2 separate regions of the Homo sapiens genome follow, and region 2 is linked to region 1. Evidence: fine-mapped QTL for protein levels in blood plasma. A gene starts in region 1. The other region holds a variant in brackets. All regions are shown on one strand. Distances are from middle to middle.

What was found. PIP is the chance, under the fine-mapping model, that this variant and not a neighbour inherited with it causes the effect. Protein levels are from antibody-based Olink assays in UK Biobank. Linkage for the fine-mapping came from a reference panel and not from the study's own genotypes, which makes the PIPs less certain.
Region 2: its variant is fine-mapped to the plasma level of the ERN1 protein (UK Biobank, PIP above 0.99).

What each region holds. Positions count from the first base shown.
Region 1 is chr17:64,126,305-64,134,586 of GRCh38, reverse strand. ERN1 (endoplasmic reticulum to nucleus signaling 1) reads left to right here and starts at 4,443. Exons shown (of 22, transcript NM_001433.5): 1 at 4,443-4,611. The coding sequence starts at 4,558. RefSeq lists enhancers at 934-983, 2,579-2,638, 3,543-3,592, 3,643-3,842 and silencers at 4,263-4,392, 4,483-4,932.
Region 2 is chr17:64,021,517-64,029,819 of GRCh38, reverse strand. No RefSeq gene overlaps it. Among named protein-coding and RNA genes, the nearest start is that of ICAM2, 5.0 kb to the right of the region's middle. RefSeq lists an enhancer at 4,023-4,072 and cis regulatory regions at 3,670-4,115, 5,217-5,654. The variant A/CA (reference allele first, on the strand shown) is at 4,975.

The DNA.
Region 1 (8,282 bases):
TACCTAAAAACCAAAGTGTTCACAGTGAGAACAACTTTTAAAATGTCCCTTAAACGTGACGGGAGGACGGAGATGAGAATTTAGCTTGCTATCAGAGACTCTTGCTTCATTGTTTTTTGTGTTTGTTTGTTTGTTTGTTTTGAGACAGGGTCTCGCTCTGCTGCCCAGGCTGGAGTGCAGTGGTGCTATGACAGCTCACTGCAGCCTCCACCTCTCAGGCTCAAGCAATCCTCTCACCTCAGCTTCCAGAGTAGCTGGGACTACAGGTGTGCACCATGGCACCTGGCTAATTATTTTATTTTTTTGTAGGGACAAAGTGTCACTATGTTGCCCAGACTGGTTTCAAACTCTTAGGCTGAAGATACCCGCCACCTCAGCCTCCCAAAGTGCGGGATTACAGGTGTAAGTCACAGCGCCTTGCCCCTTTATGGTTGTATTAATATTTATCCCATAACTACTTCCACACACTCTGTAGGTTCAGTTCAAGAAGCAGCAGCAGCGATATCACTAAAAACAACAACAACAAAAAAACTGACTTGATTTATTCTGATAAAGATACTATTCCTTTGAAATGTTACTGGAGTTTTCAACCATGACCTTTCTTTCTGGTTTTACTAGATTTTTCTTTCAAGTCTCCGCCTTCAAAGGTATCTATCCTGTCACTAGCTATCTGCAAATCAACCTCACAAGCATTTTTAAATGAGATTTTGAAGGGTTTTAAACACAAATGAGACAGGCACAAGCTCCTTTTTTGGGTCATAATTTATTACACTAGAGGGCGATATTTGCTAAACTAAAAGGGATTCATGGTTGCAGGGATGAAGGCTGGACATCATGATTGAGCTGGAGCCCTGGATCTTGACTGCCTTCAGTGTACGGTGGAAACTGCAAAACGCACAGGTCTCTGGGCTCTGCCCCTGGACATTGTGAATCAGTCAGGGAAAGGGGTACAAGAAGTTATTGGAAATATGTTTTTAATTTCTTTTTTTTTGTTTGTTTTTTGAGATGGAGTCTCACTCTGTCGCCCAGACTGGAGTGCAGTGGCGCAGTCTTGGCTCACTGCAACCTCTGCCTCCCGGGTTCAAGAGATTTTTCTCCCTCAGCCTCCCAAGTAGCTGGGACTACAGGCGCACACCACCACGCCCGGCTAATTTTTGTTTTTTTAGTAGAGACAGGGTTTCACCATGTTGCTCAGGCTGGTTGGTCTTGAACTCCTGACCTCGTGATCCACCTGCCTCGTCCTCCCAAAGTGCTGGGATTACAGGTGTGAGCCACCATGCCCAGCTTTTTATTTCTATTTTTTTGAGACAGGGTCTTGCTCTGTCGTCCAGGCTGGAGTGCCATGGCACGATCAAAGCTCACTGCAGCCTTGACCTCCTGGGCTCAAGCCATCCTCCCACCTCAGCTTCCCAAGTCACTGGAACTACAGGTGTGAACCACTATGCCTGACTAATTTTTTGGTTTTTTGTTTTTTTTTTTTTACAGAAACAGGGTCTCACCATGTTCCCTAGGCTGGTCTTGATCTCAAGCAATCCTCCTGCTTCGGCCTCCCAAAGTGCTGGGATTACAGGCGTGAGCCACCATGCCTGGCCTGGAAATCTGTTTTTTGTTGTTGTTGTTTTGTTTTGTTTTTTTAGCTCTCCAAGTTTGGGAACCAGTGGTTTAAAGGGAAGTGAAAATAAGATTTTCTCCCACCTCCCCATAGTCAGATCCTGCTGTACTTCTTTGTTGAATCTGATGTATATATGTTTCTTACACTGGTGGAAAAGAGGCCTTATCTTTACACTAAGACCATGACCTTTGCTTTATTCAGTGGATGTTATTTAATGTGACTTGCAGAAAGGTCATTTACTGCCCATTTGCAGGTCTTTTATATGGTCAGGTCCACTTCAAAGGCACCCTACAAAATATTCCATTTCTGTTTGTGTTTATCAGTGCTATCAGCTTTTACTTTATCATAAGCAAAAAGCTGCCTAAAGAAGTACTTGACTGTAGAGCAAGATTATGGGCAATGCCACCATAAATAAAACCAGTGCTTATCTGTCTGGATTGCCAATCAAGTGAAGAAGTGCATGAAGCATGTGGACGATGCATAAGAAATTCAGAGAATGGGGCCGGGCACAGTGGCTCACGCCTGTAATCCCAGCACTTTAGGAGGCGGAGGTGGGCAGATCACGAGGTCAGGAGTTCGAGACCAGCCTGGCCAACATGGTGAAACCCCGTCTCTATAAAAATACAAAAATTAGCCAGGCGTGGTGGCAGGCACCTGTAATCCCAGCTACTCGGGAGTCTCAGGCAGGAGAATCGCTTGAAACCGAAAAGGCAGAGGTTGCAGTGAGCCACGATCGTGCCACTGCACTCTAGCCTGGGCAAAAGAGTGAAACTCTGTCTCAAAAAAAAAAAAAAAAGAAAGAAATTCAGAGAACATGTAACAGTGCAATTAAGCCCTGGGGATTTGGTCCAACTGAGTGTAAGATAAATAATACCTAACTGTCCAGGCTTCTTGGAACAGATTTTTTTTCTTTCTACGATCTTTAAAACTGATTTATGAGTGAAATTGAGGTCAGCATTCCCCTTTGTGTTTCATCTGCTGATGTTACAGGGTCACAGTGACATTTTGAATTGTAAAAGGGCTGCCAGAGTTCCAGTACAGCAAATTTTCCCCTCCTAGACTTACTCTGTTTGAGAAAAAGCACCAGAGGGGGGGATGTGAAAGTGACATTTTTCAGTCAAGCTTCTCTTTTAAGTCAAGTATACAGGGTCTAACAGATGCTGTTGTCAGCTGGCAAACTGGACAGGTAATCACTAAAGAGGTCCTCCCAAGCCAGGTGTCGTGGGGCACACCTGAAGTCCCAGCTACTGGGGAGGATCTCTTGAGCCCAGGAGTTTGAGAGCAGCCTGGGCAACACCGTGAGACCTCATCTCTAAAAAGAAAAGATAAAAGGTCAAGAAATAAAGAGCTCCTCCCAGTTTCAGGGCTGTAGGCCTCCCTGGAAGCCCGGCTATACTGCTCAGGAGTGCTGGGCCTCTCAGTACATCTCTCTGCCAATCCCAAACCTCTGTTTGCATTTAGACATTCAGGTAACACTTTTCAAAATGTCTCTACTGTTTTCACAGTTGCCAAGATTCTTCCCACTCTTACAGAGATGTGTTGGAGTCTCCAGCATGCGGTAGGACTTAGTCCCTTCACTGTAATCCAGGCCTAGGGGGTTAGGAATGGGGAGCTCTATTTGCAGGATTTGGGCTTACTGTCATTTTGGTCTGTTTTAGTTGGATAAGATTGACCACAATGCACACAGACTGGACATTTGGCCAGTCCCCCACTACTACTTTGTTGTTTTGTCTAGGAGTGCTTATTCTTTTCCTTCAAACCTGAAAAATCTTAGGCTCTCATATAAGCAAGTCAGGAAAAATTAGAGAATTTCATAGCCGTTTTCTTTTTCTCCTAGGATAAGTTAGATACCTTTCCCTGGGCTCCAAATCTCAGTTTACTGTCTTTCCTTGCAAAAGACGTGTCCTCCCTACCCATGTCCCTCTCAGTGGAGGCCAGTGCCAGTGACCAAACAGCTGCCGAGCTCTTTAACTCTAATTAGTACTCCACACCCTCACATAGACCTTGCAGGAGGCCTCAACCCACCCACTCCCTCCAACGAGTTGTGACGCAGACCATCTCAAACTTCACATCCACACGTGTCACATCAACGCACGTGACACAAGTGGCCGAAATGGTTTCCTCCTTATAATTTTTGGTGAGTGACTTGGCCGTGGTTCATTCCAAGCGGAAGTGATGGCTGGTGGATATGACTTGAGGGGAATTCCTGAGGGCAAGGAAAAGGAAGAAAGGGGCCCCAGAGAAGACGAGGCACAGCTGGAGAACCCTAGGGCTGTGAACACTGCGACTGCCGCGCGGGGCAGCTGCGCCGTGTTTGCTGGAAGCCTCCGGTAGCTGCTGAAACCTTCGCTCCGGAGGTCGCCTCGGTAAACCTTGCGGATGATTCCACCACGGCGGAAAGACGAAAAGGAGGCTTCTAGGCACCCGGGACCGCCCGTGTCCCGCCCTTTTCCCCGATGAAGTCTGACGCGGCAGGTCCCTCGGCAGGGTTAATGGGACGGCCTGGTGGGGCATTGCCGGTCTTTCCCAGCCACAGACAAGCTTCGCGCCTCGATCCCCCAGCGCCCCCAGACGCTGGATGCCGAGGCCTGGTCCTTTACAGCCGCCGACGCCTCATGAGCGAAGCCAGCCAGATGCCAGCACCGCCTTCGGCCCCGCCCCGAGCCAGCCCCTCCCACATCCCCGCCCGGGGCACGCCCTCGGCCCGCCCCCATCTCCGCCCCGAACACGCCCCTAGATTGGCCCCGCCCCGTCCCCGCCCGCAACTCCGCCCCGACCGGAAGAAGCCGCGGCACCCAGCGCTTATAGGGCCGGGAATGGGGGTGCCGCCGCTGCCTAGTCAGTTCTGCGTCCGCTGAGGCTCGGTCACCGCCTCGCTGTCGTCGCGGCGCCCCCGCCCCGTCCTCTGTCCGTACCGCCCCCGGAGCCAGGGCCGAGTCCTCGCCATGCCGGCCCGGCGGCTGCTGCTGCTGCTGACGCTGCTGCTGCCCGGCCTCGGGGTGAGTGACCGGGGAGCGTGGGGTGGAGGACAGCTCGCGACGGCCGGGTCGGGGCCGGGGCAGCGTCGCGGCGCCGGGGCTGGAGTCCGAGCTGGGAGCGCGACGGCGGCGGCCAGATGCCCCGTGAGCCCAGCCGTGGGAGGCTCGGGCCGGGCGTAGGAGGCGGCACCGGGCCGGGAGAGCTTCCCTGACGGGAGTCGCGGCCCCACCGAGGCGTCGGCCGCCCGAAGAGCCTCCCAAGCCAGCGCGGCTGTCACGGGCAGCGGCTCCCCGGACCCCGCGGGCTCGGGCGCAACTTCGTGGCGTCCTGCACGGCACTTGGGGGTCCCAGAAGGCCCCGGCCTGAGGAGGCCGCCCACCTGCGGGACCCTCCTCCTCGCGGGCGGGCGCCGGCGCTGCCTGGCGGGGGCCGCGGAGGAGCCGAAAGGGCGTTGGGATCCAGGGGAAGGGTCTGTCCTGCGCTTCGAATCCTTGTTTGAACTTTTTAAAAATTCGAAAACTTTGGGGAACGAATGCAACAGGGAGTAAGGACTCTCACCCGAGAGCTGGCTTCTGCCACTTGCCCTGCCGGTTTCTTGGTACTGGGAGGCTGCAGGCTTCCTTCTGTGCACCGAGACTTCCTTGAGCAAGTGGAGCTGTGGGAATTGCACTCTTGGAAGATCCCGCATGGGTTCGAGGTGAGGCCGCTTCAGAACCTCAAATGAAAGACTGTCTCCTCGTGGGAGAGCACCTGGGGCCATCAGAAATGTCTTTTCATCTTTTTCTGGAGGAGACGAATGATAGGGCCTGGTTTACATTCATTTAACTCTTTATGACCTTCACTCAGCTGTGGATTTGGGGGCACTTTGTGGGAGACTTGGCTTTTTTTTTTCTTCTGGTTGGAAGAACCTAAATTAGCGAATGTTTTTCACAAAATGTATTGTTCAGGATGTGAGCGTGGCAAATTTGTCCGTGTTCTGTTTAATGACCTCTTTAAAGGTACTGTGTACTCTTTAATAGGGATATCATGTACCAGGTGTCCCAGTAGAGCACTGACATGTGTGTGCCTGAGTGCCAGCCACCGTGTGAACTCTTTGGAGGTTTTGCATTTTAGGTAAATAACTGTCTGTACTCTTGGAGTAACAAGAATTTGGAAACAGGAGAAGTAAATAAATAAGGTTGCCTTTTTCAAATTCAGGGTTTTTTTTTTTAAATAAAGGAAAATTTGTAGACTCTTTATAATAGAACTTGTGGAAGTTAAGTTTTTCTTTCAAATAAAAACCCCACTTTTACAACTAAGGTCAGGTTTTGAACTTGAGCACCTCACCTTGGATTGGTAACTACTGCCTGGCATCTGTTCACAAACGAAGGTATAAGCAGAATGACCAAATGTTTGACATGAATTCGATCATTTCATAACGTCAAGGGATAGGTGTATAATGGTTTCCTTTGCCACATCTTTCCTTTTGCTACTTTGTCACTGGATTCTAGTGTTTGGTTATTGAATAACTTAGGCTAAAGAGCCAAAAATAACGATTTAGCTGTAGTTGGAACTATAGTTTCAGTTCGTGTAAATATTTCCAATTTGTATTTAGAAATCCAAACTTCTCAGAGTTCATGATAAAATATTCCAGACCCTTATCAAAAGGTTATAGTTTAGCGTAACTATATTTAGGTGAAAGGTCAGGCCGGGCCCGGTGGCTCATGCCTGTAATCCCAGCACTTTGGGAGGCTGAGGTGGGTGGATCACTTGAGGTCAGGAGTTTGAGACCAGCCTGGCCAACATGGTGAAACCTTGTCTCTACTAAACATACAAAAAAAAAAAAAAAAAAAAATTAGCCGGGCGTGGTAGCGCAGGCCTGTAATCCCAGCTACTGGGGAGGCTGAGGCAGGAGAATCACCCGAACCTGGGAGGCAGAGGTTGCAGAGATGGAGTCACTGTGCTCCAGCCTGGGTGACAGAGCAAGACTCTGTCTCAAAAAAAAAAAAGAAAGGTCAGAATTTCACTCCTAGAATTTTCTCCCAAGGGTTTTTACCCCCAAACATAGTAAGAATTATTATTTTAAAATTGTAAATGAAACTCATAGCAAAGTTTGCAGTTAAACCAGGCAACAGTGATGTGCAGAACGCAGTGGGTATAAAATCAGACAAACCTGAGTTCTAACTGGTCACTTGCTAGCTGTGCCCTAGGCATATTCTTTTACTACTACTACTACTACTTCTTTTTTTTTTTTTTTTTGATATGGAGTTTCTTCGCTCTTGTTGCCCAGGCTGGAGTGCAATGGTGTGGTCTCAGCTCACTGCAACCTCCGCCTCCCGGGTTCAAGCGATTCTCCTGCCTCAGCCTCCCGAGTAGCTGGGATTACAGGAGCCCACCACTACACCCGGCTAATTTTTGTATTTTTAGTAGAGACGTGGTTTCACCATGTTGGCCAGGTTGGTCTCGAACTCCTGACCTCAAGTGATCCACCCACCTTGGCCTTCCAAAATGCTGGGATTACAGGCATGAGCCACCGCACCCGGCCATGATTTTACTTCTTAGAGACTCCTTCCTGATAGGTGAAATGGGGACAGCTAACATGTGAAAGAAGGCACCACCTTCACACGTGCTTAATAGATAATAAATGTAAATTCTCTTTATGCTCCAAAGATGCTTTTTACTCTAAGCCATCATTTTTTGAATGTTATACTATGCCTCTGCAAGAAATAGTTTTTGATATTTCTTTTTGATTGATGTAGTAACTATTGCATTGGAGGCAATACTGTGATTTTCTTTCAGTGTGTGTCTTATTGAGCCAGACATTGACTCATTATGAGTTGAGACTTTAGGCTACCAGATCCAAAACGCAATAACATTGGTATTATTAAGCACTTGAGGCTGTCTTTTGTTAATCCAGAATGTGCTTATTTAGTCAGTGAGTTTTTCCTTTCTTCCTAGACCTATATCTTGCTCCTAGAGTTGGTTAGGGTTACATCATCACTGTCAGCAGTCCTCATTTTATGGTTATTTAGGTGCCACATCTCTCAATTACCAAAGAGATCAGTACAATGTGAGGCAAAGTACCTTTTTTTTTAAAAGCTATAAGATATCAGATTTCTTTCATTTAGCCAATATTTTGGTTTTAGAGGGAGGTTTTTAAAAAGTCACCGAGAACTGAGGATCATGTGTGTATAGAAACACTGTAATCTGATAGATGAGTCTTAACTAGCAATGTCTTTGCTTATCATTTATTCTGACAGTGATCACCTGCATTAATTATCCTAATAGGCGATATCAAGTGTTTATACTGAGGCCATAAGTAGAATGTTCATTGAGTTTGTTATCAGGGCTGCTGATCATGAAATTAAACTGTAGTTGTGCACATGTGTATTGTTTCATTAACTTGCCTGCCTATTCAGCCTTCTGCAGTAATGTAGCTTCTCAGAGCACAGGAGAAAAATGTATCTGAGAGTTATTCGAGAGAGAGTTCAACAATAGCCCATATTTCCGAACATAAATCTAGTGAGCCGCATTAAAGTTTCTTCATGTCTGGATGGAATAGTGTCACTTGCATAGGTCTGAGGGTTTCATTATTTGCCTGCCCCAGATTTGGACTCCGTTTTTCAGGTGAAAGAATCCTTGGATAACTGTTTCATTTTCATAGGAAACCTCTTTGGTTTCGGGATCCAAAGTAATATGTAGGTTCAATATT
Region 2 (8,303 bases), 100 kb after region 1:
CAGCCTGGGCAACACAGGGAGACCTTGTCTCTACAAAAAAATACAAAAATTAGCTGGTGTGGTGGTGTGCACCTGTAGTCCCAGCTGCTTGGGAGGTTGAGGTTGAGGTTACGTGAGCCTGGGGAGGCCTAGGCTGCTGTGAGCCATGATGGTGCCACTGCACTCCAGCCTGGGCAACAGAGTGAGACCCTGTCTCAAAATTTTTTTTTTTTTTAAATAAATACATAGAAAAAGATGTAGCAAACAAATATTAACAAAATGCTGGTTTAGCAATACCAATCAGATTCTATAGAATTCAGACAAGATCAGGCATGTTCAGAGTGCTATGGCTGGCTATAGACAGAATTCAAAAAGAAAAGGATTGAATGGGACAGAAAAAGATATTTCATTTTTATCAAAAAAAATAACTGAATAGAACATATAAGGCACGAATCCTTAGACACCTAACAACATAGCTTCAAAATATATAAGGCAAAAACTGAACTACAAGGAAAAATTGTCAACAATGGATATTTTAACCATTTTTCTCACTGATCAAATAGACCCCCAAAAATTTAAGATGTGGAAGATTTGTACAGCACAATTAGAAAGACCGATCAAATAAATGGTAAAATATTTTCATAACCAGTAAGTGGGGTCCAGAAATACAACCATATGATTTGCGGAGCTGCCTTATTTTGAGGTTAATGAGTGGCCTTGGAGAGCCTGCACAGCTGGGGTTCCCCATCAGCCCAGGCCAGCTAGGTTTAGTGCCACCTGGTGGCAGTTGTCTCCTCCAGAATAAAACACTTAACCTTTACAAGGTGGAATATGTTTTTATTTATATTTATATATTTTTTGAGACAAGGTCTTGCTCTGTTGCCCCCCTAGGCTGGAGTGCAGTGGTGGGATCACAGCTTACTACAGCCTCAACCTCCTGGGTTCAGGTGATCCTCCCACCTTAGCCTTCTGAGTAGCTGGGACTACAGGCAAGTGCCACTATGCCCAGCTAATTTATAAATTCTTTTTTAGAGATGGGGTCTCATTCTGTTGACCAGGCTGGTCTCAAACTTCTGGGCTCAAGCAATCTACCTGTGTCAGCCTCCCAAAGTGCTGGAATTACAGGCATGAACCATCGCACCTGACCAGAATATGGTGGTTGTTTTTTTTTTTAATCTTCTTTGTGCTTAGTTCAGATTGTCTTTCATGAATATGAATTACTTTAAGAATAAAAAACTACATTTTTCTAAGCCCCTACCCTTCTTGTCTATAACATGAAGAAGGCAGTTTGAATGAGCCCTAAGATTCCTCTAGCTACACAGGGCTACGAGTCGGCACCAAACAAGCCTCCCAGCTCTTGACATTGGCTGCACCGACTCTCCTGGTTTATAGCTGCATCTGCTCCAGGGCCCTCAAGCTTGTGGCCTGGGCTGAATCACCCTCTGCTCTGAGCCTGTCATTGTTTCCCAGGCCTTTCCCATCTCAGGAAAATTTTCCCCAGTGTTATCCTCTCCCTCTCTCAGCCCCAGGTCTAATTCATTCCTTACTTTTTTTTTTTTTTTTTTTTTGAGACAGAGTCTTGCTCTGTTGCCCAGGCTGGAGTGCAGTGGCGTGATCTCTGCTCACTGCAACCTCCACCTCCCAGGTTCAAGTGATTCCCCTGCCTCAGCCTCCCTAGAAGCTGGGATTACAGGTGTCCGCCACAACCCCCGGCTAATTTTTATATTTTTAGTAGAAACAGGGTTTCACCATGTTGGCCAGGCTGGTCTTGAACTCCTAACAGGTGATCTGCCCACCTCAGCCTCCCAAAGTGCTGAGATTACAGGCCTGAGCCACTGCACCTGACTGTCCTCTACTTTTGTAGAACACATTACTCATCTCTTTGCTCATCATTTTCCCCCCACAGATTTGGACTCACCAGTTGACACATTTAGGGCAATTTCCCAAAGTTTATATCTCCAAATATTAATTCCAAAGCTATTAAATTATTTAAAAGGCCTCAATCACCAAATCTGGGAAATGCCAGATTAAATAAAAGTTCCATATTTACAGCAAGACTTTTCAGAGGCTTTTAACATGACAACAAAATATTCTCCAAGAGGAGATATAACACATTTATCTCCAATTATTGCCTTTGATTTAAAAAAATCAACAAAGGAAGTATGTTTGTTATGGCAAAGACAATGCTATATTTTCACCAAATCTTTTTGCATTTTCCTCTTTCTGGGTACTCAGGAAGACAACACTCTCAGCCACCACTGCAGTTAGGTTGGGGCCATGTGACTAATTCTGGCCAATGGGAGTAGAAGAGACATGTGTTGCTTCTGAGCCACAGTCTTGAGGAGCAGAACACGCTCCTCCAGCACCTTCTCCCTTGGACACAGTGATCGGTGATTGTGGAGGCCTCCCAGCTACTCGGGAGGATGAGGCACTAGAATCGCTTGAACCCAGGCGGCAGAGGTTACAGTGAGCCAAGATCGCGCCACTTCATCCAGTCTGGGCGACAGAGCGAGACTCCATCTCAAAAAAAAAAAAAAAAAAAAAGTGTGTGGCACCTCCTGCTCCTGTTGCTCCTGCTTTCGCCGTGTGATGCATCTGCTCCCTCTTTGCCTTCTGCCATGATCGGGAGCTTCCTGAGGCCTTCCAAGAAGCAGATGCTGCTACGCTTCCTGTACAGCCTGCAGAACTGTGAGCCAATGAATCCTCTTCCTTTATAAATTACCCAGTCTGAGGTATTCCTTTACAGCAATGCGAGAACGGCCCACCTCCTTCTTCCGGGGCTGCAGAGGGAAGAAACTGAGGGATAAAGAAGGATGATGGTGAAAAGAAAAACATTTTAAAACCACAGCTACTGCTTAGCACACCTGCTCCTCCCCTCCCACGGGTGAACCATGCCGGCCTCTCGATGTGGCAGAGTGGGGAAATATTTGTTTTTTATTTATTTTTTTAGACGGAGTCCCGTTCTGTGGCTCAGGCTGCAGTGCAGCGGGGCGATCTCGGCTCACTGCATCCTCCGCCTCCTGGGTTCAAGTGATTCTTCTGCCTCAGCCTCCCGAGTAGCTGGGACTACAGGTGCGTGCCACCACGCCTGGCTAATATATATATATATATGTGTGTGTGTGTATATATATGTGTATATATATATGTGTATATATATGTGTGTATATATATGTATATATATGTGTGTGTATATGTATATATATATGTGTGTGTATATATATGTGTATATATATGTATATATATGTGTGTGTATATGTATATATATGTGTGTGTATATATATGTATGTACATATAGATATGTATATATATTTGTAGTTTTAGTAGAGACGGGGTTTCACCATATTGGCCAAGCTGATCTCAGACTCCTGACCTTGTGATCTGCCCGCCTCGGCCTCCCAAAGTGCTGGGATTACAGGCGTGAGCCACCGCGCCCGGCCCAAATTGATTTAAAACGAACAAAAACAAAAACAAAAAACAACCTCATCTCTCTCTTGGATTTTGCCTCTGCTCCCTGCCTCTGGCATCTTTCCTAAGGAAACTGTTTATTTTCCCACCTGAGTTCCTAGTAAAGCATCTCAGTTTTATTCCCTCCTTTGCAGAAAAGCTTAGAGCAAGAAAAATGGCAGCTGGCAGGTGCCTTCACGTCCAGGGTTTCCAGAGAGAAAGCATCTCTCCTCCGCAGAGACCCTCCCACGCTCTCCCTCCCTCAAATTAGTGCATCTACATAGACCGCCCTCCTTATAAACAGTCTCTCAGGGGATCCTAGCCCATTCCAAATCTACCTGTGATTGCAGAATCGCAAGGAATGTGATTTACCGCAGATCGCGGGGCGTCGTGTCTTTTAGGGGACCTGCTCACTTTGGCCACTAGGTGGCGGGCAGTGCAGCCCCTGCTCCTGTCGACCCTGAGCGTTCAGCGTTTCCGCCGCCTCCGCCCCACTCCGTAGGGGGAGCTGATGAGATGAGGTTGAGGTCCAGGAAGACGTCAAGGGCTTGGTTTTGTAAACAACTCCATTCCTCGCTCGCTGATAAGTTTTCTAAGTGATGCATATTCACAACCTTGTCCCATCCAAGGACCCAAGAATTAACACATTACATAATATGGACAGCCCCCTCCTGTCCAACGGGCATGATTTTGGGGTCTGATATTCTGTGGATCTGTGCAATAGTCAACACACGTGCTGGGATGTCCTTGGGCACAGCCTACAAGGACACAGATAGGTGCACGTCCGGGCACCAACTCACAATAACCACAAACTTTGTTGAGTGCTTCCGTGTACCAGGCTATCAGCCAGCGTTTTACAAATCATCACACTTTCCTCTCAGAAGCCCTTGAGGGGGGGTCTGAAGGGGGTGAGAGGGGCTCCCTAGTATGAAAGCTCAGACGTTGGGTCCCAACTGCCTGGATTGGAATCTTGGTTCAGCCTCTTGCTGGCTGTGTGCCAGCTACTGCCCGCCATCTACTGTACCATGTCTCACGTTCTTCATCTGTAAGAGGCATAACAACAGTATCGAGTCATAGGCTTGTTATGAGGATGAAATGTGATGATACTTACTGTGGAGTGCTTAGAACAGTGTGTGGCATATGTAGTAAGCATGTCACAAACGTTGGCTATTATTATTATCCCATTTTGCAGATAAGCAAACTGAAGGTCAGAGAGGTTACACAACTTGCTCAAGGTCACACAGCCTTATAATTCCACTCTGCCAGACTGAGCTCACAGTCTCTGTTAGTCAGTCTATAGGCTGGTGACACCTCTAGTTTCTACTTGTGGTTTTGATTAGCTGGACGCTATGTGAATTGAGAACACTTTCGTATTCCGCTGAAACAGTGTGGTCCTCATTTCTAAGAAGTTCCCGGGTGATACTGATGCCAGCAGCAGCGTCATTACCTGGGAACCTGTTAGAAATGCAAAAAATTCTCAGGCCTCCCTCCAGACCTACTACTCAGGAACTCTAGGGATGGGGCCCGGTGGGCTGTTGCGGCAAGCCCCCC[A/CA]GTGATCCTGACACACGTTCAAGTTTGAAACCCCTTGCTATAAAATATGTGTCTCCTAAAACCAAGCTGCTAGCTTACATTCAATAAACATTTACCTAGCATGATCTTGGCAGTTCAAAGAGGAATGTGCCAGAAACCAAGCAAAGAAGAAAAAGAAATAAATGGAAATGGAAAGTGATCTGCTCAGAGGCCACAAAGTTGAGGGAGGAGGTTTCCAGAGTGGGATTTGGCCCAAATGTTGCCTGAGGAAGTACGTAAAGGGGTCTCAACTCTGGCTACACAACAGAACAGCAGGACTGTGTGTGCAGCTCACGAAGTGGGTACACAGGGTAATCTGCAAGTTCTGGGTGGATCTAGCACCTGGATTGTTAAAACTTGCATAGATGGCCAGCGTTCATACTTTCTGCTTGTTTGTACAAAGTCATTCTTCTAGAGTAATTGTTGTAAAATTGCTAGGCAAGGTGGCAGGTCTGATAAGATTTGATGACGTAATGGCTCTTAGTCGCTAATAAGAGGCTTTTGTGGAGTGGCGTGTCACAGCCAGCGAAGGCTCAGCTCTGTGATCTTCGCCTGCCTCACTTGGGGGACCAGAAGGCAGCTTGTCTTGGAACTGCCTCATTCACAGAAGACCCCATTGAGTACAGAAACTGCACATCAAAGGGAGGAGTAAGGAAAACAAGATGGTGAATCCTCAAAAATTAAACAAAATTACCTTTTTAATTTTTTTTTTTTGTAGAAACGGGGTCTCACTTTGTCACCCAGACTGGTCTTGAAGTCCTAGGCTCAAGCAATTCTCCCATCTCAGCCTCCCAAAGTGCTGGATTTACAGGTGTGAGCCACTCACCTCAGCCAGAATTACCACTGAAAAAAAGAAAAAAGGTTAAGATGGTAAATTTTGTTGTGTATATTTTACCAGTATGATCCAGCATTTCCACTTCTGGGTACATGCCCCAGAGAATTGAAAGCAGAGTCTCGATCAGGTATTTGTACAACCCTGTTGATAGCAGCACTATTCACAATAGCCAAAGGTGGAAGCAACACAGGTGTCCCTCAATATATGAATGGATGAACAGAATGCAGCACACACGCACAATAAAATATTACTCAGCCTTCAAAAGGAAGGCAGTTCTGGCCAGGCACAGTGGCTCACTCCTGTAATCCCAGCACTTTGGAAGGCCGAGGCAGGCAGATCACTTGAGGTCAAGAGTTCAAGACCAGCCTGGCCAATATGGTGAAACCCCGTCTCTACTAAAAATACAAAAATTAGGTGGACATGGTGGCAGATGCCTGTAATCCCATCTACTCAGGAGGTTGAGGCAGGAGAATCCCTTGAACCTGGGAGGCAGAGGTTGCAGTGAGCTGAGATCACACCATCACTGTCCTCCAGCCTGGGCGATAGAGCAAGACTCTGTCTCAAAAAGAAAGGAAAAAAAAAGGATAAAAAAAAGAAAGAGCCAGAAGGTGAGGTACCATGATGCCAACCTTGGACCAATCATTTGACCAGGAAGGTGGAGCTGAGTAGGAAGATGGAAGCTTCCCAAAAAACTTGTCTAAAGTAGAAAAAGAAGGGGTTATCTTTAAAAAAGGGTGAGTCCAAACATGGCTCCTGGAGAAATTGTCCCAAATGGGACATCCACCCCCATTTGTGTCTATGACAGATGCCACCAAAACATTAAAGTCACGTGGGCCCTTCAAAGCTCTGGGCCCTGCTGCCTCCTTCCCACCATAGTCATTTTATATTGGCTCTGTTTTGCCAGCAGTATGACAAGGAGATTCCAAAAAGAACTGAGCTGAAGAAATTGATGCACACAAGCACCAAGAGAAATTGCGCCAGAGCAATGTGTGGCCTTGACTGTCCTCCTGGCCTCTGAATGGTCTAATTTGTGACTTTGCTAAGCCAGAAGTTTCAATGTGCTGTGAGGCTGGCCCGTGGGAGCAAGATCCTCTGCTCGTGGGTGAGCCTAGCTGGCTGCCCGCCACCCACCTCTGCACCCAGTGTTCATACTTTCTGCTTGTTTGTACAAAGTCACTCTTCTAGAGTAATTGTTGTAAAATTGCTAGGCAAGGTGGCAGGTCTGATAAGATTTGATGAAGTGATAGGTCTTAGTCACTAATAAGAGGCTTTTTTGGAATGGTGTGTCACAGCCAAGGAAGCCTCAGCTCTGTGATCTTCGCCTGCCTCACTTGGGGGACCAGAAGGTAGCTTGTCCTGGAACTGCCTCATTCACAGAAGGCCCCAGTGAGTACAGAAACTGCACATCAAAGGGAGGAGTAAGGAAAACAGGATGGCAAATCTTCAAAAATTAAACAAAATTACTTTTTTTTTTTTTTGTAGCGATGGGGTCTCACTTTGTCACCCAGGCTGGTCTTGAAGTCCTAGACTCAAGCAATCCTCCCACCTCAGCCTCCCAAAGTGCCGGATTTACAAGTGTGAGCCACCAAGCCCAGTCAGAATTACCACTAAAAAAAAAAAAGAAAAAAGGTTAAGATGGTAGATTTTGTTGTGTATATTTTACCATTATGATCCAGCATTTCCACTTCTGGGTACATACCCCAGAGAACTGAAAGCAGAGTCTTGAGCAGGTATTTGTACAACCCTGTTTGTAGCAGCACTATTCACAATAGCCAAAGGTGGAAGCAACACAGGTGTCCATCAGTATATGAATGCATGAACAGAATGCGGCACACACGCACAATAGGATATTGCTCAGCCTTCAAAAGGAAGGCAGTTCTGGCCAAGCGTGGTGGTTCATGCCTGTAATACCAGCACTTTGGGAGGCTGAGGTGGGCGGATCATTTGAGGTCAGGAGTTCGAGACCAGCCTGGCCGACATGATGAAACCCCATCTCTACTAAAAATACAAAAATTAGCCAGTCGGCACGTGCCTGTAATCCCAGCTACTCAAGAGGCTGAGGCAAGGCCAGGCACGGTGGCTCATGCCTGTAATCCCAACACTTTGGGAGGCCAAGGCGGGCGGATTGCCTGAGCTCAAGAGTTTGAGACCAGCCTAGGCAACATGGTGAAACCCCATCTCTGCTAAAATACAAAAGAAATTAACCAGGCGTGGTGGCGTGCACCTGTAGTCCCAGCTACTCAGGAGGCTGAGGCAGGAGAATTGCTTGAACTCGGGAGGCGGAGGTTGCAGTGAGCCGAGATCACACCACTGCACTCCAGCACTCCAGCCTGGGCGACAGAGTGAGGCTCCATCTCTACAAAACAAACAAACAAACAAACAACAACAACAACAACAAAAACACTGAGGCAAGAGAATCGTTTGAACCTGGGAGGCAGAGGTTACAGTGAGCCAAGATCACACCACTGCACTCCAG